Linked DNA regions of Homo sapiens: all the other regions are linked to region 2. Evidence: fine-mapped expression QTL. A gene starts in region 2. Each other region holds a variant in brackets. All regions are shown on one strand. Distances are from middle to middle.

Region 1 (5,104 bases), 26 kb after region 2:
AGGGGGACTGCCCAGCGCTCCAAAGGGGGCCATCAGCACCCAAATTAATGATGGCCGAAATAGCCAGGCAAGCCCAAGAGTGACGGGGCCTGGGACCTTCTGCCACAACTCCCATTGGACAACTAGCCATATCTCCGAAGGAGCCCTGGGTAACCCTCGACGTGGCAGGTAAGACTGTTAACTTGCTTTTGGACATGGGGGCTGCTTGCTCTGTTTTGACCCATTATAATGGGATTCTGTCACCCCAAAACTGTATGGTCACGGGGATAGATGGACAAGCCCATAAATGCCATTTTACCTATCCCTTAACAACTTTGGTTTTCTCACATGCCTTTCTTATCATACCTGAATGCTTCACCCCCTTGTTGGGAAGGGATTGTTAACTGAATTGCAAACAGTGGTATCTTTTGGAAATCAAAAGACAGACTAGGGGTTGTTCCTTCTCCTTTCCTTTGTTAAGGGAGGAGAGTCAAAGGGGCTTACCTACTTTACCTGTTGAAGTAACCTCCCAAGTAAATCCTATAGTATGGGTCACTAAAGTTACAGGCAAAATGCTAAACCTTCCCCCAGTTTGCATCCAACTTAAGCCTGGTGTCCCACACCCATGGAAGAGACAATACCCCTTAAAGCCAGAGACATAAAGAGGGATCCAACCACTAATTGCTAAGTTTTTGCAGTTTGGGTTGTTAAGGCCCTGTGAATCTCCTTGTCATACACCAATCTTGCCAGTTAAAAAGCCAAATGGAGACTACAGATTTGTTCAAGATCTTTGAGCTGTCAATGAGACTATCATTCCTATACATACTACAGTGCCCAATCCCTACACGCTGTTAGCCCAGGGACCTTTTTTTTTGCATTCCAGTACACCCTGATTCACAATTCATCTTTACTTTTGAAAAGACTGATACTGATAGCCATTTAGTTTCTTAATTAACTTGGACAGTTCTTCCCCAGGGGTCTAGGGACAACCCTAATCTGTTTAAAAATGCACTACCTAGAGAATTTAAAATGGTACAATTAAGTAAAAACACTATTACCCAATAGGTGAGTGACTTGTTGGTTACTAGCTCAACTAAAAGAAACTTGGACAAAAATACCATTCAGTTACTAAACTTTCTGGGAACTAGTAAGTACAGGGTCTCACCACACAAAGCCCAGATTTCAACTCAAGAGATTAAATACTCAGAATAAGTTCCAACCCCTGACAATAACACCAGAATGAAGGGAAACTATCTTGGACATTCCAAAACCCCAAACTAGAAAACACCTGTGGACTTTCCTAGGGATGGCAGGATTCTGCTCTTTATGGGTAGTTGGATTTGGGCATATAGGCAAGCCTTTTGATGAGACTCTGAAAGGAGCAGATGTAGGTCCTTTTGAATGGGATAGTAATTGTGAACAGGTTTTTAAAACTCTCAAGGAGAAATTGGGATCAACCCCAGCCCTAGGGATCCCTAATTTTGATAAGCCGCTTTTCCTTTATATGACTGAAAAACAAAGCACTGCCCTAGGTGTCTTTGTCCAGAAATTGGGAGCTATTCCCTGACCAGTGACATATTTTTCTAAACGACTAGACCATGTCACTTCAAGATGGCCTGGATACCTCAGGGCAGTTGCAGCAACTGCCTTAGTAGATGAAACAATAAACTGGCTTTAAGACAACATCTGGAGGTTTTAACCCCACACCAAGTACAAGGAGTCCTAGAAACTAAAAGACACCAGTGGATGACAGGGGGACTCATTAAAATATCAGGCTTTATTGCTAGACACTCCTGATGTAACTCTTAAAGTATGGCATACTTTAAATCTAGCTACTCACTTGCCTGAACCTACAGGCACCCTAGATCATTCTCGTATACAAGTTATGGAGCAAATTTACTCCATGGAAAATCTCGGCTCACTGCAACCTCTGCCTCTCAGGTTCAAGCAAGTCTCCTGCTTCAGCCTCCCGAGTAGCTGGGATTACAGGCATGTGCCACCATGCCCAGCTAATTTTGTATTTTTAATAGAGACTGGGTTTCACCATGTTGGTTAGGCTGGTCTTGAACTCCTGACCTCAGGTGATCCACCCACCTCGGCCTCCCAAAATGCTGGGATTACAGGTGCGAGCCACCACACCCGGCCCATCACATTCTTTAAAAAAGCAGAGAAATGAGTGACACATTCTTGAAAACTTTCCATTACGAATGGATGAAACCTAAGATTAGTTATTTAAGGTTTCTCAGATGGGAAACCTAGCTTCCTAGGGTGGCTTATTCTTGGAGACTCCAGACAGTGAATGTTTTACTAGGCTGTGTGTTCACTCCATTTGTTATTTTCTTAATTTGTTCATTTTTAAAGGCAAGTGATGCTATCAAACTTCATTCTATATGTCTATACTACTGATTTCTGTTGACTTACCCCTCACTTCCCCCTATCTTCAATGGCTAGTTACTGTTTTAACCCCATACTGGGTTGTCTCTTTTATTCATTTACTCTTGCACCCTCCTCTATCATCACTGATGAAAATTTAAGCTATATTGGCCCAAGATCAGCCTTTGAAAACATTCTTTGTGTGTTCTCTCATGCCAACATCAGGACCGTATTTTTCTGGTTGTTGAGTGATTTATGTGAGATGAGTTTAAACCTCTTGCTGAAGTTAAGATGTATCATGTAAATGACAACCTTTGATTTATCAAACTTAGTAATTAAAGTTTCCTAATGCAACAGGATGTGCTCTTCCCATAGCCATACTGAAGAGTACTTCATGTTTATTCTTTGGAAGGGTTAAGCAGTGAGACAGCCACGGGTGCTC[G/A]GATCAGACATTTTCGTTTGTGAGGGTTGGAGAATGATTTTCTCCTGTTTCTTATCATTAGCTACCTTGCGAACTCTCCTAAAGCTACTGAAATAATGGCAATGGTTTAGACGCCCTGCATCTCCAGGGCTTGTGGTTTGTGCACATCTCTCGTCTAAATAAATATAAATATTTTCTCTGTTTCTATTTTATCTTCCCCAAATTCCTGGTTCTGGTGTTGCAACTTCATAAAACCCAGAGCCCACATGGCAGTACCAGCTGCTAGCCCAGGTCAAACTTGGGGAGGGCAGCTGCTTTCCAGGTGCACCCTGTGTGATCCTGACTTCCTCCTGACAGTGCCAGGAACGCCCGTGAACTGCTTTCGTGGTTGCATGTGAAAACTTTTGCATTTCTAGAAATCTCTTCTCCAGCAGGCTGGGCTATTGGCTGCTGTGGGATTGCTAGCTGGTCTAGACCCAGCCCCTCCTTCAGGCTTTTCCCACCCGCTGCTCCTCTCCTGGCCTTGGGCCTCATGCCCGAGTCTCCAGCCGCCACCTTGCTGTTGCTTTACTGTTTCTCCGTGATGCTGTTTCTAGCTAGTTATAATTGGCAGGCAACCAGAAGCCTCATCTGCCAAGGGCGGAAGTCATGTCTGGAACAGGTTTCCCTCTTAAGACTGTGGGCTAACCCAGCATCTTGCCACTTTGTGTGGGACTTCCTCATTCTTAGTACATAACTGTGTTTGACCCTCAGGGATGACTAGTGTTTCCTGGCCTCGGTACAGTTGACTTCTCCAGAAACTATCTGGCTCACTCTCAATTTCCTGGAGCCGTATATCCTAATTACAAAAATGGGAAAATCATACCTAGAGTCCCATAGAAAGAGAAATAGAACCCCCATATGTGCCTACAATTCATCCATTCTCAATTCATTATTTTAAAAATGTAGCTGATGGTTTGGTTCTGAGACCAGACGGTACAAAAATTACCATTCACTCATAGTAGGGCCATCAACTACCATAATCTTTTGGAAAAGTAATTTAGCAATATAAGTCAGGACCACTTAAAAAACCCTTAGAGTTGCTCATTCCACTCTTAGGAACTTATCCTAAAGACGTCAACAGATGTGGACCAAAATTTGTGTGCAAGAATATTATGTAGAATTTCTGTATTGAGAAAATTTGGAGACAGCCTAGCTGTCCAAAAATAGGACTAAATAAAACATGGTACAGCAATATAGTGAAATATTATTATATAACCATTAAGTTATGTTCTTCAACAGTATTTTTAAAATAAGGAAAATTCCAACGTTTTTGAGGAGTCTTTTTAAAAACGAGAGTACAGACCAGGCACAGTGGTACACACTTACAATCCCAGCACTCTGGGAGGCCAAGGCAAGTGGATCACTTGAGGCCAGGAGCTGGAGACCAGCCTGGGCAACACAGTGAGACCCTGTCTCTACAAAAAATACAAAAAATTAACCAGGTGTGTTGGTGCACACCTGTGGTCCCAGCTACTTGGGAGGCTGAGGTGGGAGGATTGCTTGAGCCCAGGAGTTTGAGGCTGTAGTGAGCTGTGATGCCACCACTGCACTCCAGCCTGGGTGACAGAGTGAGATCCTGTCTCAAAATAAAATAGAATGTAAAAAGAGCACATGCATGAAAAGTGGAACACAACACTTTAGGTAATAATATTATCCCAATCACATAGGTGTGCTTAGTGCAAACAAAAACATTCATAGTATTTATCTCTGGTGGTAGAATTACTGGCGATTTAAAAAAAAATACATTTTTTTCTGAATATTCCAAGTGTTCTACAATGAATGTGTTACTTTCCTAATCAGAAAAACAACTGTTATTTGTTAAAAGAAATTAGACCACAAAAAAAGCAAAAACACAAAGGCCTTGCCTATTTTTTTTCCCCCTGTTTTACCACATCCTTTCTCACTGATGTAGAAAAAAAAGGAACTAATATTTATGGTGCCAAGAATGTAAATCCGTCCTGTAACTTGGAAGGTACATGTGTATCTTTCCCATTTTAAAGGTAATAAAGTCACCAAAGAAAAGGGTGGCAAAAATAAAATGTGAATGCAGGCCCATTGGCCCCAAAGGCATCTTCTTCTCACGTCTACACTGTCCCACTCGTGATAGTTTTAAGTTGCATGTTATTCTGTACCTGGCCTTTTTAATTTTATCAAAATAAACTTCCCTTTGGTAACAAAGATATTCTACTTTCTGTAAAATTTTCATTCCAGCTAACTTTTGTTAGCTAAGATTTTGTCTAAGGAGTACCAATGCTTTGAATAATCATACTAAAAATATAGCCTAATTGG
Region 2 (5,104 bases):
TTATTCACCTTCTACAGTTAAGACAAGTTAACATCAAACATGCCCACGTCTACAGTTTAGAATTAAAATCTTCACAGTGGCCAGGTGTGGTGGCTCATGCCTGTAATCCTAGCACTTTGGGAGGCTGAGGCAGGCAGATTACCCGAGGTCAGGAGTTCAAGGCCAGCCTGGCCAACATGACGAAACCCTGTCTCTATTAAAAATACAAAAATTAGCCAGGAGTGGTGGCAGGTGCCTGTAATCCCAGCTTACTCGGGAGGCTGAGGCAGGAGAATTACTTGAACCTGGGAGGCAGAGGTTGCAGTGAGCCGAGATCACACCACTGCACTCCAGCCTGGGTGACAGAGACTCAGTTTGAAAAAAAAAAAAAACTTCATAGCAAGACTGCTCTAATTGTCTTAAATCAATAAGCACCCAATAATGAATTCTGATTATAAAAACACGGGTGATAATTCTATGAATTATATAACTTGGAACATTAATCCCGGTGTGGCATTATATTAAAATACTTATAACTTTCAGCTGCTATCTACTTAGCCCTATTTTACTTGAGAAAGAATTTTGTTCTAGTAAAAGATCTAAAAAGCATACAGGTTATTAGAGTAAGCACTCAATTCATAATAACGGGGAGGTAGAGCGCACATCATATAGTTAAGGATATTTTAAAAGTTTTACTAAATACAAATAAAGCTTGTAAAAACATTCCGTAGAAATGCATAGAGACAAGTAAATGAACTCTAAAACCAAAGTAAACTATTGATATACTACCCCTAATATATGAAAAAAAAAAAATACTGGATCCAGTAAGTTATGAAACTCTGAAGATACTTACAATAAATTCTACTAGCAAATAAGCCCTGAAATTTTGCAAGAAAAATATGCGTGTTTTACTCAGTAAGAATGTAGTCATACATTTTTAATTAGGGTTTCCCAGCTAATAAGTTTAACTGCACGGCACAAGTGAAGAAACTCTTCGGACAAGAGTAAAACCAAGGATCTACTCACTCTTCAATTATGAGACATAATTCACAGGCTGGCTTGTAAGACACAGGTGACCCACATTTTTATTAGTGTCCACATTTGCAAAAATTTTAATCTAGCCCCTTAATATTCTCGGAGACTATAATCTAACACGTTTGAATCTTTAACAACAACAAAAAAAGGTAGTGGCTAAAATTGCTAGTCATTTCTCCACCCTCCCAAAGGTGAATGGAACTTTCAACTCTAGACATCAGACTGTTTTGTTAGCAATCCTTTAAGGGCTTCAGTCTTCATTTTATTATTGGATACAAAACCTTTACTTATTTTAAAGTGTTCTCTGAAATACTCAATATAGTCCACGGCTGAGAACACTTTGCCGAACGTTTGGCATCTTCCTTAATCAGCATCCCACAGACAGGGTAGAGGTGACTTAAGAATGAAAGGCACAATAATCCCTGATATCTGGAATCAATAAAATCCATGACGTAAGCCTATATAACTTTACACACCACAATTGTGGCAAAATTCATTTATTTGCCATTTATAAACGGGTCAGTAGTTTTCTTTAATACAGCTTACGTAATGTCATCGCCCAGTGCGTTTTCGGGTTTACACGTGTGGGTTAAAGAAATCTATGTCAAGATAACCTGTTCATCAAACTGTTTTTTAAACATTCAGAAAAAGAAACATAAACCACAAAACGCATATTTTTATTCTAAATTTACAGTCTACGTTCCAACGAACGACTGTCATTATCTTTTATCAAATAATCTGTCCAACAGCAAAAGCACAACAGCAAAATACGTGGAAAGCATTCAAAGCATACATTGTGCCTGCTTCTATTTTCCAATGCGGAATGTAGGCAATGAAACCGCTCCAGAGAAACACACTGTTGCGAGGAATAAAGGCGGGTGTGCAAGTGGCTCGACTGCCAGCTCAGAAAAGCTCGCCTCCGAGATGTCACCTGGCACACTTGGTGGAGTCACCGAGACCCAGCCTCAGGGTCCTACTGCAGCTTCCTCATTACGGAGAGAGCTGAGGCCTGGGGAAACGGGGGCTGCTCTTTCACGCGGGCCCCGCAGCCCTTCACTTTGTGTGAAAATTCCCTGCGAAGGCTGCACGGCCGGTCCCCTCGGGAGCAGCCCCTGCCCCTGCGCCTCGGACCGTCCGGCCCCGCCCACCTGCCCCGCGGCCCCCGCGAAAGCGCCGACTCCCGCGCAGCCCCCGGGTCCCACAGGCAGCTGTCCCTCCCCCTCCGCACCCCCCGGATCAGCACTTTGCTCCACTTTCCCCCAAAGTCGCCGAGCCCCGCCACGCCGGGGAGCGCCAGGAACGCACCAGGCGCCGAGCCGGCCGCAGAGAGGGCGCGCGACCCCGAGGGGTGCGCGGTGCGGGGCAGGGACGCTGGGAGGACGGCCCGGCCCGCGCCCCGCCGCCCGCCCCCGAGGCCCAGCCGCTCCCGGAGCCGGCCCCGCGCCCAGAGGCGCCAACAGCTCCCCCGCACAGAGCTCCGGCCGGGCCGCGGCGCAGTAGGCTCCTTTACCAGCAGGTGGATCTCCCGCAGCCCGGGGCCGCCAGCCCGGCCGCCGGCGCCGCCCCCAACTCCCGCGCCCTCCGCGCAGCCGCCCCGCGCCCCCTCCCGCCCCCGCGCGCCGCCGCTGCCGCCGCGAGCCCCTCACCCGCCGCTGGCGTCGCCGTGCTCCCGCGGCTGCCGGCGGAGCTGCTGTAGCCGCCGCCGCCGCTGCCGCCGCCGCTGCGGGCCGCCCCGCCCGCCCCGCCGGCTCCGCCCCCGCCGCTGGAGCGCCCGCCCCGCCCCGCCCCGCCGGGCCGCCCCGACCCCGCCAGCCATTGGCCGGCCCCGCGGGCCCCGCGCCCCGCGCCCCGCGCCCCACCAGTGGCCCGCGCGACTGTCACTTAGGGGCGCCGCCACGCAGCCTGCGGAGCGTTCGGGAGGCTGGCCCGGCTCATCGGTGTCACGGCGAGGTCCGGAGCGGAGCCGCGGTCTCGGGTCCCAGCTCTGGGCGCCGGCCTGCTCCCCGCCGCCCCGCTGCCACATCTGGCTGAGATCCTCCCGGCGCGTGCAGGGACCGCTCCGGCGGCCAACAAAGGCCCGGGCGAGCCCTCGGCCTGCGCCTCGGCGCGCGACCCGACCACCCGGGGCTGCCCCAGCTCCCAGGCGCCTGCCTGCCTCGACCCGGCCCCTTCCCAGCGGCGCGCCCCGCTCCGGGCCGCCCAAACTGGGCGGCCTCCCCGGGGACAGGTCCCGGGCCCAGCCCCACAGGAGCTCCCGAGGCCCCGCGGACGGTCGCGACAGCCCCAACTTCCCGGTGAGAACCCCGCGAATCGGCCAGAAGGGCTGATTTCAGCAACTGGGAAGGAGAAAAACAACTAGGGTTTCAACGCACATCGTTGGGTGCTAATGCCCCTGATTTTCCACTATGCCCCGTTTTCTTGAACCCCATGTCCTTATCTGTCGCCGTTTCACAAGGTTAGAGGTTAACTTCAAAGGCAAAAAACTGACTCGTTTGTAGAAAGCCTGGGTGGTCTGTCCCTGTTTTTCATAGTATCCATAGGACTTGTGCTAACAGTAACTACCCCTGGGTACGTCCTCTTTTGAATACTTAACTGTATAGCAGGCAACCGTATAGCAGGCATGGGTGTTAGATCGTTTATTGCATATCTCATGTTTTAAATTTATTCCCCATTTTTCATAAGAGGAAACTAGCTGAGAGGTGAAAGGGCTTGCCCAAGGTCACACAGCTGGTAATGGTTCAAAAACAAGGGATGTGTTAACTTTATTGCCGCAATAATCCTTACAGCAATCCTACCGAGTAACCTGTAAGGGAATTGAGGGGCCAAAGATCAAGGAGGCAGCCTTGTTCCTGCCAAACTCCCAAAGTAATAAGTAGATTCTTTTCAGAAAACAGTAATTTCAATAATCGAAAACTCTTAAGAGGCATCAATCAGAACAGGGTCCCCTCCCCACCTCCGATAAATTCCATTATTTTTATCTCAAGATAAGAATAATTAATAATCAGCTAGAACATGCATGGAGTTATCAGCCTTCCCATGTTGAGGTTTCTCCATGACGGCTAATTTAAAACTTCAGGAAGAGACACGTAACATCCCTGCTCCCATAGTCTCTTACTAGTTTAGGGGAACCATACCAAAAGATCTGTCCACTGCCCAGCACTGTGGACACAACTTGGGGGATCACAGCCATGATATCCAATGACAGCTCTTCCCTCTACTTTGAGTGTGTTTTCTCTCTACTTCCGGTTTGGCTGTGTCCCCACCCAAATATCATCTTGAATTGTAAATCCCACAATTCCTGTGTGGTGGGAGGAACCTGGTGGGAGGTAATTGAATCATGGGGGAGGGTCTTTCCCATGCTGTTCTCGTGATAGTGAATAAGTCTCACGAAATCTGATGGTTTTAAAAAAGGGAGTTTTGCTGCACAAACTCTCTTTGCCTGCCACCATCCATGTAAGAAGTGACTTGCTCCTCCTTGCCTTCCACCATGATTGTGAGGCCTCCCCTGCCATGTGGAACTGTAACTCCATTGAACCTCTTTTGTCCGTTGCCCAGTCTTGGGTATGTCTTTATCAGCAGCATGAAAACGGACGAATACATTGGGGACCTGAAAGCCAGGTTTCCTGTATTCTATGACAAAGCCATTGCCAAGTAGCAAGCTGGCAATTTGATTCATGACCAGATGTAAACAGAGGTAAAGACTGAGACCATTCCAAGGTAAAGCTTTTAATACATTGTTGGATATATCCTGCCTAAAATATCTCCTAGGAATAGATGATTCTAGGCTTTGCTATTACAGTGCTCTTAATGACAGACAAGCAAACTACTTCTTGCAGAGGAAGAAAGTCCTGCCATTTGATAACATCATGGAGAATGCCCCCAAGCCATTTTCATGAATTACCCAAAAGACCAAATGGAACAGGAGCTATTATCCCTATTTTATTCACGAAGAAACTGAGGCCCTGAGAAATTAAGACATTTGACAGATACAAACAGTAATTTAGGCAATTAGTAAATGTTTGAATCAGAGTTCAAATCCAGGTCTGTTTGATTCCAGAGCCCCTACATCACCCCTCCAGACTATCTCTCT
Region 3 (5,104 bases), 77 kb before region 2:
AAAAAAGGAAAAGAAAAAAAGAATGTTCAGGCTGGGCGCAGCAAGGTGGAGGTTGCAGTGAGCTGGGATTGTGCCACTGCACTCCAGCCTGGGGAACAGAGCAAGACTCCATCTCAAAAAAAAAAGAAAGAAAGAAAGAAAGAAATTAAGACTTTCCCAGATAAACAAAAGCTGAGTGAGTTCATCACCACTAGACCTGCCCTACTGCTGAAGGAACATTTTCAAGTTGAAGTGAAAGGTCAATAAGCAGTAATAAAGCACCATATAAAAATATAAAACTCCCTGGTAAAGGTAAATATACAGATAAATATAGACGTAGTAAGGTAATGCAGGTGCATGAATCACTTTAAAATCTGGTACCCCTTTCAAATCTTTTGATCACATTAAAATCACTTCTTAAAGACTAAAAGCACAAACAATAATTATAAATCTGAGTTAATGTATATGCAATATAAAAAGCGGTCACTGGTGTCATTGGTAAAATAGAGTGCAGGGGAGACAGAGATGTAAAAGAGTAGAGATTTTATTTGTCATTGAAGTAATAAATAGACTGTTATAACTTTAAGATATGTAATTGCAATGGTAACTACAAAATGAGTATCTATTGAATATACACAAAAGGAAATAGAAAGGGAATCAAAATACGTCACTATTTTAAAAAATCAACGAAACACAAAAGAAAGCAGCAAGAGAGGAAAAGATAGACAAAAAGTTCCAAGACATACAAAAAAATAAAGTAAATGGCAATAGTAAGTCTTTCTGTATTAGTAATCACTAAAAATGTAAATGGGTCAAACATCCCAATTAAAAGACACAGTTAGGCCAAATGGAAATTTTTAATGAGATCTATTAATATACTATCTACAAGAAACTTACTTTACATCAAAAGACACACATAGGTTAAAAGTGAAAGAATGAAAAAAGATAATTCATGAAATCCAGAACTGAAAGAAAACAAGGATGGCCATACTTAGACAAAATAAGACTTTAAGACAAAAACTGTCACAAGAGACAAAGAAGGACATTGTACAATAATAAAAGGGTCAGTCAAATCTCTGAAAAGACATAACAATTCTAAATAAAGATGCACCTAATAATAGAGGTCTCAGATATATGAAGTCAACACTGACAGAATTGAAAGAAGAAACAAACACCACCACAATAATACTAGGGGGTTTCAATATTCTACTTCAGTTATGGATAGATCAGACAGAAGATCAATAAGGAAACATCGGACTTAAACAACACTATAATCAAACGGACCCGACAGACATAAAGAACACTGATCCCAACAACAGCAGAATACACATTCTTCTCAAGAGCATATGGAACATTCTCCAAGACAGACCACATGTTAGGCCCCATAATATCTCAACAATTTTTTTTTTTTTTTTTTTTTGAGACAGAGTCTCACTGTGTCGCCCAGGCTGGAGTGCAGTGGCGCTATCTCGGCTCACTGCAAGCTCCACCTCCCGGGTTCACGCCATTCTCCTGCCTCAGCCTCCCTAGTAGCTGGGACTACTAGGCGCCCGCCACCACGCCCGGCTAATTTTTTGTATTTTTAGTAGAGACGGAGTTTCACCGTGTTAGCCAGGATGGTCTCGATCTCCTGACCTTGTGATCTGCCCACCTCAGCCTCCCAAAGTGCTGGGATTACAGGCGTGGGCCACCGTGCCCAGCCAACAATTTTTTTTAAGACAGGTTTTCACTCTGTCACCCAGGCTGGAGAGCACAAGGCTCACTGTAGCCTCAATCTCCTGGGCTCAACTGATACTCCCACCTCAGACTCCCGAGTAGGTGGGACTACTGGTATGCACCACCATGCCCAGTGAATTTTTTGTATTTTTATTAGAGACAGGATTTCGTCATGTTGCCCAGACTGGTCTTGAACTCTTGAACTCCTGAACTCAAGTGACCTGCCCACCTCAGCCTCCCAAAGTGTTGGGATTACAGGTGTGAGCCAGTGCCGCCCACCAACAAATTTAAGAAGACTAAAACTATGCAATGTATCTTCTCTGACTACAACAAAATGAAACTAGAAGTCAATAGCAGAAAAGTAAACCCAGAAAATACACAAATGTGTGGAAATTAAACAACTCGCCCCTAAACAACCAATGGGTCAAAGAAGAAATCACAAGGGATTTAGAAAAAAATCCAGAAACAAACGAAAACAAAAAAAAAAATATACCAAAATGTATGATATATAGCAAAAGCCATACAAAGAGGGAAGTTTATACCAGTAAACATTTACATTAAAAAAAAGAAGAAAGATCTCAAAATCAGCAACCTAACTTCAACCTCAAGGAAATTGAAAAAAAGAAACAAACTAAACCCAAAATTAGCAGAAGGGAGAAAAAAAAATAAAGATTAGATCAGATAAATAAATAGAAAAAAATAAATAAATAGAAAAAAAAAAGCAGAAAAAAACCCAAAGAAACCTAGAGTTGGTTTTTGAAAAGATCAATAAAATTAATAAACCCTTAGCTAGATTAGCTAAGAAAAAAAGAAGATTCAAATAACTAAAAGTAGAAATGAAAGAGGGAACATAACAACTGATATCACAGAAATAGAAGAATTACAAGAGACTACTAGGAACAATTATGTGCCAACAAATTGGATAATCTACAA[G/T]AAATGGATAAACCTCTAAAAACAATTTTCCATGGGTGAATCATGGAGAAATAAAAACTTTGAACACACTTATAATAACTAAGGGGATTAAAGCAGTAATCAAAAACCTCTCAGCAAAGAAAAACCCAGGACCAGAGAACTTCACTGGAAAATTCTGCTGAACACTTAAAGAATTAACATCAATCTTCCTCAAACAGCTATCTTCCAAAGAACTGAAACAGAGGGAACACTTTTCAAACACATTCTAGGAGGCCTGCATTTCTCTGACACCAAAGCCAGACAAAGACACAAGAAAACTACAGACCAATATCCCTGATGCAAAAATCCTCAACAGAACACTAGCAAATGGAATTAAAATGCACATTAAAAGAATTATATACACCATAACCAAGTGGGATTTATACCTGCAATACAGGGATCGTTCAACACACAAAAATCAATCAGTGTAACATATACTACATTAACAAAATGGAGGAAAAAAACACATGATCATCTCAATTGGTATGGAAAAGCATTTGACAACATTCAAGACACTTTCTTGATTAAAAAAAATGTGACGAACTAGAAATAGAAAAAAACTTATTCAACAAAATAAAGGTAATATATGAAAAGCCCATCGGTAATATCACACTTGGCAGCAAACAAATGAAAGCTTTCCCTCTAAGATTAGAAGCAGGGCAAGGAGTCCCACTTTCACCACTACTAGTCAACATAGTGCTGGAAATCCTAACTAGAGCAATTAAACAAGTAAAAAAAGTAAAAGGTACCCAAACCGGAAAAGAAGAAGTAAAATTATCATTATTTGCAGATGAAATAATCTTATATGTAGAAAAACCTAAAGAATCCACCAAAAACTACAAGCAATAAATGATTTCAGCAAAGTTTCAGGATACAAAATCAACACACAAAAATAGTTGTATTTTTGTATACTAACAATGACCAATCCAAAAAAAAAATCAAGAAAACAATGCCATTTACTGTAGTATCAAAAAAGATAAAATACTTAGGAATAAACCTAACTGGGGAGGTGGAAAATTTTTCTACAAAACATTTCTAAAAGAAATCAAAGAAGATACAAATAAATGGAAAGACATCTTGTGCTCATGTATTGGAAGACTTAATAATATTAAAATGTCCACACTACCTAAAGCGATCTACAGATTCAATACAATCCCTACCAAAATTCCCAAGGCATTTTTTACAGAAATAGAAAAAAATCCTCCTCAAATTTACATGGAGTCTGAAGTGACCCTAAACAGCCAAAATAGTCTTAAAAAAAAGGGAACACAGTTGGAGGCCTCATACTTCCTAATTTTAAAACATGCTACATGTCAGGTGCAGCAGCTCGTGTCTGTAATCCCATGACATATTGTGTTCTTGGTAAAAATTGGACTGTTGTGCTGCTAAAAATAATTGGACTGTTAGAATTAAATGTCAATTTTATTATCTTCAAAATAGTGGTAACAGTATTGTGGCCTACAAAAAAAAATTAGTTCATTGTAAGACCACTAAAGAAAAATTGTAAGAAAATTCCTCTTTAAAATCTGCCAAATAATGACATCTTAGTTCTTCTTGACAGTGGAGAGAGGGAAGAGGGAAGAGAAGATGGGGGAATGGGAGAAAAAGAGGAAAAAGATAAGTGAGTTGCAGGTCCCCCGCTAAGTGGAGGGCTGGCTTCCCTACTCAGTGGAGAAACATCAGAGCCCACATGCTCAGTTACCATGGAGACCCCTCTGCTCTGAGATAGTTATGATTTGTCAGATCTCAGAGGGTTTGCACTTTCAAAACTTCCTGTTTTAATGAAAACATACCCTTGATAACACTTTTTCTTTACAAGCATGAAAAACAAAGGAAAAACTACACTTACCTGAATGTAATATATGCCCTTTTCTTGAGCATACATCATTAGAAAACAGTAATCTAGGTTTTGCTTTGTTCTCCATCTGAAATAAACATTTTCAAAAAGTAAGTTAGGAATCAGACTCAAATTTAGTAAAATAAGATTAAATGTATAAATGTCAAATGTCTACATAACATGTCATCTATGTATATGTGTACACACACACACATACACACACACTCACTTAGGACGAAGAGTCAAAGAAAATTCACTTTCCTCTAATGAAGACTTTATCAAAATGTATTCCCAAGAACACTAATTCTCAAGCTGTCCTGAGGAAAAAAATGAGTCTAATATCAAGTAAGTATGTATACATGTTCCCCTTCTAGAAACATATTAATTCATAAGAGGCACAAAAATATCCAACGGTAAAGACATTTATTGGGAAAAAAATTCTTAATACATATTTTTCCAAACTTCCTTGACCACAGACCCTTTTTTCAGTAATATCTTAATGTTTCATCAAATGAGTGCTTCAAAAATTACAATTTTAGGGTCCCTATTCTGGTGCCTAGGACTGTTTGCACGCAGATCAAAGTTCACAAATAGGTACTGAATGCTTTAAAAAATTCATAT
Region 4 (5,104 bases), 57 kb before region 2:
GAGGGAGGGTCAGAGTGAAAGAAAGAGATGGAACAACAGAATCAAGAGGGTCATGGTCAGAGAGATTTGAAGATACTGTACTTTGACGATGAAGGAAGAGGCCACAAAGTAATGTGGAAAAGGCAAAAAAAAAAAAAAAAAAAAAAAAAAAGGATCCTCCCCTAGAGATTCCAGAAGGAACACACCCCTCTTGACAACCTGGTGTTAGGACTTCTGCCTTCCCAAACTGTAAGATGAGAAATCTGTGTTGTGGTTTAAACACAGTGAGTTTGTGGCAATTTGTTACAACAGCAATAGAACACCAACACACCCATCTTCACCAGTAAATGATAGATTCTACCAGCCTCAGGCCAAACGTAATTTCTCAGAGTTCCTTAAACTCCCTAATTAGGCCAAAAGTCCCTCTTACACATTCTCAAAGCATCCTTTACATCGGTAATTAAAGTTATAATTATACAGTTGTTTGTATAATTGACTATGTGACTAATACGTGTTTTCTTTACTGGGCTGAAGCTCCACAAGACTCGGAACCACATCTAATTTTGTGTACCAAAGTATCTGGCAAGGTGCCTGGCCCATAGCAATTGCTCATGGACTTTCATTGCAGCAAATACTTCAAGAATTATCTGTTATCCTCTACGAAGCAGTTGTGCCGTTTTGGTAGATAACCCAATGAGAGTCTTTGCTCAGCCCTCTTGCTCTACCCTGAATGGGCCCTTTAACCTGAAAACCTGAAGGTTTCTTCAACTCAAAGAAATTTACTTCTATAAGCTGGTAATTCCCTCTTTTCACTCTCTTTGTTCACTCCTTCTGAAATGACTACCAGATGAACATTAAAACTTTTGTCTACTTCCATTCTTTATGCGTTTATGCTGCATTCTGGAAGAAATACACAGCTCGGTCTTTCTGATCACTAATTTGATCTTTAGCTATGTCTAGCTAAAATTCCATATCAGTCCCTCGATGTAGGATTTTTAAATATAATCATTGAAATCATAAGCACAAAAATTTCTAACGGATCCTTTGATAATGGTCAGTTATTGTGTTATGGGCAAGTTCTCCTCCCTCATTTCTAAAAATATGTTGATGCTTTATTTTTAAATCATATTCAGTTTGTTCTGCAAACTCAATTTTCTTTAGTATTAAGTCATTCGTGGTACTAATTTTCCTAAATTATTCAGCAACCCCTTGTTGCTGAAGTCGCCCTTGCACCTGCTTGTAGTCGCTGGGTTTGTTTGCCGCAGCCTGCCTTGGAGAATGTGGTGGAAGGATACAGATGTGGTGCTGGGTGGTGCGCCGACAGTTTTCTGTTCTGGGCATTGAGAATCCCAGCCGCTCCCCTGGGGTCAGCAGCCACCGGCAGCACTGTCCTTCCTCTTCAGCCTTACAATGGCTTAGCTATTCTAAGTGCTGTTCCCTAATTAATCAGCCTGACCACTGGAAAACAGAATTTTTAGCAAGAAGCTGTTTTTCTTTATCTAAGAAACAGAAGTTCTGAATATGAAGCCCTAGATAAGTTCTGGGGTTCCATAAAACCCCAGAAATTACAAATAAAATTATATTTTCTATGGGCATTTTCCAAAGTAGAGATTGACAGCTTTCCTAGAATATCCAAAAGGTCCTGTAACTAAAAATATTAAGAGCTTTTCCTAATGATTTAGGGAGGAAAATGTTTAACGTAAATATGGGTTATTTTTTCTACCAAGCTGTTTTTTCTACCTTTCAAAAATAGTAGCAGCTTTATAAGAATGTTAACTATTGGAAAGCTGGTTGACCAAGATTTTATTATATTTATAATGGATAAAGTCATGTAAACAAATGGGATGGAATACATAGCTTCAAAAGAAAGAGAATGTCACATTTACAAAATAAAAACCTATTAGAGACCTTGGACATTTTAAATGACTTTAAAAACACTTCTAATTTCTTTTCATTTGATACTCTTATGAATGAAGAAATAGTGTAAACAAACAAACCCACAACTACTTAAGACATCTTACCCAAAAAGTGACTATTAAAGGGAGAGATGATATCAGCTTCAAAAATAATTAACAATCAACATTCTAAAAAAAACAAAAAACAAAGTACCACACACACCTTGTTAGTCTCTGTATACCTGGCACCTGCAGAATGCCTGGCTTCAATAAATATTTTTTGAATCATTAGAGAAAGGAAAGATGGAGTTTGTCTCAACATGCTATTTTAAGAGTTTCCACCTCCTTAAGAAGGAAGGTAGTAT[A/G]TTATTTCAACTGATTAATGAAATAGAAAGACAGCAGAACTAAGACAAGATGAATGTAAAAGCTTACATTTATAGATCAATGAGAAGATGTGATCCCCCAAATAAGACAGCAAAATACTTAAGAATCCCATTGAATCAAAAGTAGACCCAGCTTTTCAAAAACACTAACCCAAAAATGAATCTTGATATCTATGAAGTTATCATTTCATCACTTGTTAAAAACTTACAGAAGAACAAAATAATATTCTGCCCTCTGCATTTTAAAATCTACAAAGAAAAGATTAACAAAGTCAAAACAGCGGAATCAAATGTATGAGTGGTAAACGGCTCTTGGGCTGCTTGCTCAAGCCCACTTCCACTCTGTGGAGTGTACTTTGGTTTCAATAAATCTGTCCTTACGTTGCTTCAAACAAACAAACAAAAAGAGTGGTAAATAGTTTCTATAAGGAAAACTGAAGAAGTTCTGTTGCCTCTGACAAGAAGAGAAAAATAAGCTATATATTATCTTTTGAATAAATTAGGAAAAAAGAAGCAAATCAAAGTATTTCTACTACTCCATAAAAAGTTACATAAAAGTTACTATCTACTTACACCTCTGTAGGAAAAGTGGGGCAGACATAAGAAAAACCTTTATGACATGACCAAAAGAGCTGTTAATTTTGAAATAAGATACAAGGCAAGTCATCTCTGTACTTCCCAAGTTTCTTAAACAGAAAAATGACAAAGGTGTCAACATTTGTCTGCCTGGGATGGGGCCTGAACTAGATTTCACATGATCCCTTTCAGCTGTATTACTTTGGTCTATGAAGGAAAATGTCCAATTCCTTTCAACATGGAGTTTAGAATGATCTGATGTGCACAGATAAAGAAAGAACTTTCATTTTTTGACCTCCCAGACTTCTGATGGTCAACATAATAGTCCAAAACACATTTAACAGCAGTAGTACAACTGCAGTAAGAAACAAAATAAACATACCTCCTGTTCTTCCGTTGCCAATCTGTACAGCAGGTTGAAGACTTCCTTCATTTTTCAATAAATGAGGCAAATGATAATAAATACTTGGCACTTGAAGAGATTTTTTGCTTGTTAACTCCTTTAACAGCTTTAGGGTATTATCTGAAACACAGAAGTATAATTAATATACAAGAATTACCTTACAGAAGTTGCTGATTTTATAAAACCAGCAGTAAAAATTAATAAGAACTAGAACTAAAGAATTTTCTTTCCTAGTTTCACACTCTGGTGAATGAGATCTCCATTTAAGATGAAAAGGACACTTTCAAAGCCAAAGTCTCACAGGTCATGATGTTGATAAAACTGGCTGAAGGAAACCAAAATGGCCAGCTAGAGGACCGTAAGAAGGTGGGATGCTAAGGGCTCACCTCTATAATGTATTAGAACTCAAGTTTGCCAAACAGACTCTAAATATACTGTTGGCTTATGAAAATGTAATAAATAATAAGTACATTAACCATCAATCACTTCCATTTTCTTTTTTTTTTTTTGTGACAGGGTCTTGCTCTGTAGCCCAGGCTGGTGTCCACTGGCACAATCACGGTTCACTGTCGCCTTGACCTCCCAGGCTCAAGAGATCCTCCCCACCTCAGCCTCCTGAGTACCTGGGACTGCAGGCACATGCTACCACATCAGCTAATTTAAAAAAAAAATTTTTTTTGTACAGACGGGAGTCTCACTATGTTGCCCAGGCTGGTCTCAAACTCCTGGCTCAAGCAATCCTCCTGTCTTGGCCTTCCAAAGTGCTGGGATTACAGGCATGAGCTATCATGCTCAACCATTCACTTTCTTTATGCATTACATGTTATCAAAATTTCACATGGAAGGAATTTTTTTTCTGAAAACTTCAAGTAAAATAATATAAACAGCACAAGTTGAGAATATCCAGTACAGATCACAACTTTCAAATAGTTTCATTTTTTTTCTCACTCCATTTTATACATAGGATGTTTCTGTTTTTATTAGAGGAACCAATGAATCATTTAATGATATGAAATAAAAACTTGGTAGTAGAAATAATATTGTTTTAAAATTTCATTAAATTTGAATTTAACCTTAGAAAAAAGCAAGCTAGCAGTAGGAATTTGTTACCTCAACTTCATTAAAAATATGAGAAGAACCAAAAATTCACGAAAGAAATGCAAATGACTGTCATATGTAAAATTAAAGTTTAATCTCATGCGTAAAGAAACAATTACAAATTATATCAATTTCTACCTATGAAATTAGCAGATTAAATATATTAAATATTGGTGATAACAAGATAAATGTTCCAACTATTCAAAACAGCAGCAAAAACCTTAAAACATTTCTGTCCTATTACTCAGTAATTTCCCTTTTAAGAATTTAGCTTCTATGCATTCAACAAATATTTAGTGATTATCTATTTTATTCCAGCAAATGTATCATTTGTTCAAAAATGAAGTCATCAAAACACAGATCCTATTTCTAAGAAGATCATAATCTAATGAAAATAACTTAAAGGTTACCAGAAATATGATTGCTTTATATACAAATATGTTCATCAGAGTTATAAACTAGGGGGGAAAAACAACCCAGAAAAACCCATTTGAATAACTGTAGAAAAAAATGTTTAATATATTGTGGTATATATAGCTGGCACATTCACAGCCACTAAAAATAATATTTTGAAGATTAATGACAAAGTTTTAAAATGCTCATAGTATAATTTCAAGAGTGAAAATCAGGCCATCATACACAATAACAATTTTGAAGAAAAACATTCACGGAAAAAATACTAGAAGGAAACAAAAAATGTTAGTAGAAATCACTTGGCATCAGGTTTATCGGTGATTTATTTTTTATCTACACTAGTCCATGAGTTTCAA
Region 5 (5,104 bases), 31 kb before region 2:
GGGGATGCAGGGGTTGGTGTGACTATCGACACCACAGGGGAGATCTTTGTGGTGATAGAATTGTTCTATAGTGGTGGTTACAAGAATCTAGACATGATAAAAGGACACAGAACTATCCACACTCATAATACCAATGTCAATTTCCTGATTTTGATATTGTACATTATATACACATAAGTTATCCCAAGAAGTAACTGTCAGGGAAAGATGGGTGAAGTTTGCACTGTATCTCTCTGTCTTTGCAGCTTCCTTTAGTTCTACAATTATTTTTAAATAGGTTTTTGAAAAAGCAAAGCAGAAAAGAACCAACGAACAAATAATTATTATTAAGGGCAAAAAGAAAATAGGGCATGTTCATCCAGTGGGTCATTCAACTGAAAGGACTTCACCACAACGTTTGTCAGAGGAGCCCAGAACACTGCCTTACTAAGAGGATGTGTAACAGTACTCTTTTGTCTACTGTGTATTCATACAACAAGATTAACTGGATGGGTTCATAAGAAGACAAATGCTAAAGGTTGATGTACACACAAAAGTGATTAGAAAGAGAGCGAATGTTAAAAAATTTTTCATTGACTTGATCATTCTAATTGCTGTTTATAAACCTAATAAAATGTTTTACAACTGAAAAGATGGCCATTCTCTTTTCAAAATTGTTAGCTGTCAGTTTTCAAAAACTGATATTTGCATTTGATGATTCAAGTGCAGAAGAACCAGAAGTAGTGATAAGCTGGCTGGGTGTGGTGGCTCATGCCTATAAAAAAATTCCAGCACTTTGGGAGGCTAAGAGAGGCAGATCATTTGAGGCCAAGAGTTTCAAGACCAGCCTGGCCAACACGGTGAAAACCCGTCTCTACTAAAAATACAGAAATTAGCCAGGTGTGGTGATGTGCACCTGTAATCCCAGCTACTTGGGAGGCTGAGGCAGAAAAAAATCACTTGAACCCAGGTGGCAGAGGTTGCAGTGAGCTGAGATTGCATCACTGCACTGCAGCCTGGGCAACAGAGCAAGACTCCGTCTCAAAAAATAAAATTAATTAAAAATAAATAAATATGCTCTGAAATCTCCTCACATTTGCTTACATTAATGCTCATTAATCCTCTCTTCTTTACACAGATCCCAGTATCAACGCTCCTTTTATTCATCTCCTGACCAGGAACACGAAACTGTTACCCATGCCTTTTCATTTTCCCCTTCATTATCCTCTGTACCTTACATTTCTAAATGGAAACCCTTCAATGACTACCTACTTAACTCTCCAACATGATCTCCTCACGTTGCCCAGGATCTTTCTTGCTTCAGTATTACCAAGCTGCTTGGAGTGCTCCAAGCCCACTTACTATGAGTTTCATTGCTCTACGTTCATGCTGTCTGCCTACCAGATCCACCTTCTCTTTCTTTACTGGAAAAAATTCCATGCATCCTTCAAAATACTCTTTCATTGTCTTCCTGTGAAGTTTTCTCTGACCTCTATCCTCTCTTTAGCTCCTTTTTATCTTGTTAACTACACTATTTTATATCAACACAAACTGTACTATAATTACATACTTATCTCTTTTTCCCTCCTCAGCTATGAGTTCCTTAACAGCAGGTTTGTCAGGAGTTCCTAAGACTATCCCCAGGTTCAGTGATTCACTTGAAGGACTCACAGGACTCACCATTGAGTTGCAGCACAGGGAAAAGACACACGGAGAGAAGTTTGGAAGAAACCAGGTATGCAGTGACTCAGGACACACTTCCTTCCCACAGTAGCGAGTGCTGACAACACGTGCAATGTGTTGTGTTGTCTACCACGAAAGCTCATTGGAGACTCAATGTCAAAGGCTATTACTGCGGGCTGGTCACATAGGCACCCGCTGCCTAGTACATACCAAAATTTCAGACTCCAATAAGGAAACCAGGTGTTCAGCATAACCACACAACTTGTACAAATAGTTTAGGCACACTGAGCCACTCTTCTCATATAGGGAAAGGTTATTATCAGGGTTTATCAGCCAAGTTCCCAGAGGCCAGCCGAGGACCAGCCTTTCAAGCCAGGCTTTCTGATAATTAGCAGTCTCAGATTTGCCATGTTAACTCTTTTCTGCACAGCAGGAATCATATTTTAGTCTTTTTTTTTTCCCCCTAAATGCCATTGCCTTACAGAATGCCAAGCAATAAGTAACAAGAGGCAAATCCTCTTAAACTAAAAAAATGTATTTAAAAATTGATCAATAATATGCATAAAATTTGTTATACCATTACTTATAAGATTAAGCTAATTATGGTAATTGTAAAATGGAATATTATGGACCCACTACAATTCATGGTATGGGAAACATTTGTGATATTAAGCAAAAAATGTACATTATACAATATGCACAGTATGAGGCCAATCCCATTTTTTGAGGGAGACACATATGTAGTACTGTGAGACAAATTAGCAAACATAGGAAGCCATGTTTGCCATTTCCGCTTGAACCCCGAGTATGTGACAAAAT[G/A]CTCCCTGGAAGAATGTTTTGAAGACAAAATAGGGTAGAGCACATGGCCCACCACATCTCTTGCCTGAGTCACGATGTTTCTTATAGGATACGTGACCCGTCCTTGCCTTTTTCTGCACGTGAGATAACATCTGACGGGGTTAGTGAGTATGCTTCTGCAAGCTATAACCAGATATCCTCTCATACCCAAACCTCATGATTCCGCTTTTATGGAACTTTCTGAGCAAGTGCGATATGATTTTACCTGGAATGGTCCTGCACTACCTGCATATAAGCAGTGGCTGGAACACTGTGCAGGGGCCATCTCACAAGACCTCTCCAAAGGACCACTCCCAGGCTGCCAGCCTCGGGCTATAGTCCTTAGCAAGACTTCTGAGTAAAATTAACTTTAATTCTTTAAAAGCTTGATTTTTTCCTTTAGTTGACTATATATATAATATATACTATATATAATATATTCATATATACTATAAATACCATATGAGTATTTACTATATATGATATCATATTAGTATATACTCTATATTATATTAGTATATATTGCATTATCTGTCTATCTATCTATCTATAAGGTAGGTCTCAGAACCCCTTTACACTGTCTTCAAAATTAGACAACCCCAAAGACCTTTTGTTTATGTGAATTATATCAATCAACATTTACCATATTGCAAATCAAAACCAATTAACTTTTTAAAGATGTATTTAAAATTCATTTAAAAGTCTATTACATGTTGGCTGGGCGCGGTGGCTCATGCGTGTAATCCCAGCACTTTGGAAGGCCAAGGGAGGTGGATTACCTGAGGTCAGCAGTTTGAGACCAGCCTGGCTAACATGGCAAAACCCCATCTCTACTAAAAGTACAAAAATTAGCCAGCCGTGGTGGCGGGCACCTGTAATCCCAGCTACTCAGGAGGCTGAGGCAGGAGAATCGCTTGAACCCGGGAGGCGGAGGTTGCAGTGAGCCGAGATCGCGCCACTACACTCCAGTCTGGGGAACAAGAGTAAGACTCTGTCTCAAAAAAAAAAAAAAAACAATCTATTACATGTTAGCATAAATAATGCATTTTATTAAAAATAATTGTTTTCTTAAAAAAATTAGTGAAAAGAGTGACATTTGCTCACATCTCTTTAATTCAGCTGAATAGAATACAGCTGAGTTCTCATCTGCTTCTGCTATTTCTTATGAGAGTGGAAAAGGCTATTATAAAAATGGTCTTCACTTCATGAACCTCCTGAAAGGGTCTAGAGATCCCCACAGGTCCTTGGATCACATGCTCAGAACCACTAATCCAGAAAAAATGAAAGAAAATATACCAAAAATGTTTAACACTGCTCTAAAGATTTAGTTCATTGGTATTTTATTTAAGATTTCATCCTATTAGGTAAGGCTGATCTATTAGTCTCTTTTTTATGCTATTCTTGTCCACTACTGGTTTCAGAGTCCAGTGCAACTTTATCCACTGTATCCATTGCACAATGGGTCTAGAACTGGACAATTACTCACATCCCCAAAACCTGATTAGTAATGTTTCTGAAGCAGCACAAAAAAATCAGTTAATGTTCTGTAATAACCCAATGTTCTCAGTGTAGTCCCCTCTCATATGTCGGCCATGAATAATATCCTTTCAGAGTTAAGAATACCTCAAACAGATTCCAGACAACCTCTGAGCACAGCACATGTACTGCTTAAGAAGCTTTCCAACCTGGAAAAATTAGATTAGGAGTCTGTTTCAGGAAATGGATGCTAGCCAACTAAGCTGAACATAAAATAAAATAATACCATGCCAAGTGCAAGGTCTAAATCGGCAAACTTTAACATATCAGCAAGAAAGGCTGCTGACCAATTTGGCAGAGGCTAGGTCTACATTCTAGACCCTAGTTAGGTCCTGTTTTAAAATTAGGTCCTTATTTATAACACCTGAAACATTCAAGACTCTTCTTTTTAGAAAGTCAATATGGCAAAAACTTTCTTATGCCCTGATGTTGTATGTGTATATTTACAGCTCAAAGAGTCCCAGGTGTGCTGGTGCCTAACCCTGGCTGCCAATCAGAATTACCTAGGGGCACGTTCGAGAACTTCCCAGGGGATGTCTAACTTCTAGCATAACAGAGTGAGAAGGCTCACAAATCCTCTTCCCACAAAGCAACTATAAAGCTGGTCAAGAGTCAAAAACAACCTAGTTGGTGCTCTGGAAAGCAAGCAAGACATTCAACAAACTGAGAAGTGTTTATTCATGAAACCCACTGGACTCCAGGTGAGAACAGCACAAGTCTGTGACTTTTCCTGCCAAGAGCTGCCCTCATCTGCCCTGCCCTCAGCTCTGTCAATTCAGAAGTTTAACAGGCGTGGGGCAGGCCTTGAAAACTAGCAAACTCACTGCCACTGCTGGCAGGGACTCATTGGATTTGCAGTGTTGTCAGTGAGAGCAGCAAGCCCAGAGGCAGGCAAGCAGCACGGAGGGCCAGAGGCCTGCTGCCATGAGGCTGCTGTTCTATCTGGGACAAGCAATGGACTGGCACACCAGCTGGAGACTTAATAGGGAGGCCTTGAAAATGAGATGGCTGTAGGGGGCTTATAAAGCTCTTCACACATCCCAGGTGGACTGGAGGCTCTGAGCATGCA

The links.
Region 1: its variant is fine-mapped to the expression of MGAT4A in whole blood (TOPMed, PIP 0.94).
Region 3: its variant is fine-mapped to the expression of MGAT4A in whole blood (TOPMed, PIP 0.96).
Region 4: its variant is fine-mapped to the expression of MGAT4A in whole blood (TOPMed, PIP above 0.99).
Region 5: its variant is fine-mapped to the expression of MGAT4A in whole blood (TOPMed, PIP above 0.99).

What each region holds. Positions count from the first base shown.
Region 1 is chr2:98,754,854-98,759,957 of GRCh38, forward strand. No RefSeq gene overlaps it. Among named protein-coding and RNA genes, the nearest start is that of LINC02611, 14 kb to the right of the region's middle. The variant G/A (reference allele first, on the strand shown) is at 2,795.
Region 2 is chr2:98,728,388-98,733,491 of GRCh38, forward strand. It overlaps MGAT4A (alpha-1,3-mannosyl-glycoprotein 4-beta-N-acetylglucosaminyltransferase A), which reads right to left and starts at 2,745. Exons shown (of 16, transcript NM_012214.3): 1 at 2,661-2,745. LOC107985922 (a long non-coding RNA gene) reads left to right here and starts at 2,894. Exons shown (of 2, transcript XR_007087150.1): 1 at 2,894-3,308. RefSeq lists silencers at 2,753-3,082, 3,103-3,292, 3,399-3,693.
Region 3 is chr2:98,650,950-98,656,053 of GRCh38, forward strand. MGAT4A (alpha-1,3-mannosyl-glycoprotein 4-beta-N-acetylglucosaminyltransferase A) reads right to left here. Exons shown (of 16, transcript NM_012214.3): 8 at 4,496-4,571. Among named protein-coding and RNA genes, the nearest start is that of UNC50, 45 kb to the left of the region's middle. The variant G/T (reference allele first, on the strand shown) is at 2,629.
Region 4 is chr2:98,671,820-98,676,923 of GRCh38, forward strand. MGAT4A (alpha-1,3-mannosyl-glycoprotein 4-beta-N-acetylglucosaminyltransferase A) reads right to left here. Exons shown (of 16, transcript NM_012214.3): 4 at 3,216-3,356. Among named protein-coding and RNA genes, the nearest start is that of MGAT4A, 57 kb to the right of the region's middle. The variant A/G (reference allele first, on the strand shown) is at 2,240.
Region 5 is chr2:98,697,395-98,702,498 of GRCh38, forward strand. The region is part of intron 2 of MGAT4A (alpha-1,3-mannosyl-glycoprotein 4-beta-N-acetylglucosaminyltransferase A); the gene reads right to left. LOC124906050 (a long non-coding RNA gene) reads left to right here. Exons shown (of 3, transcript XR_007087149.1): 1 at 1-1,714; 2 at 4,485-4,736. Among named protein-coding and RNA genes, the nearest start is that of MGAT4A, 31 kb to the right of the region's middle. The variant G/A (reference allele first, on the strand shown) is at 2,482.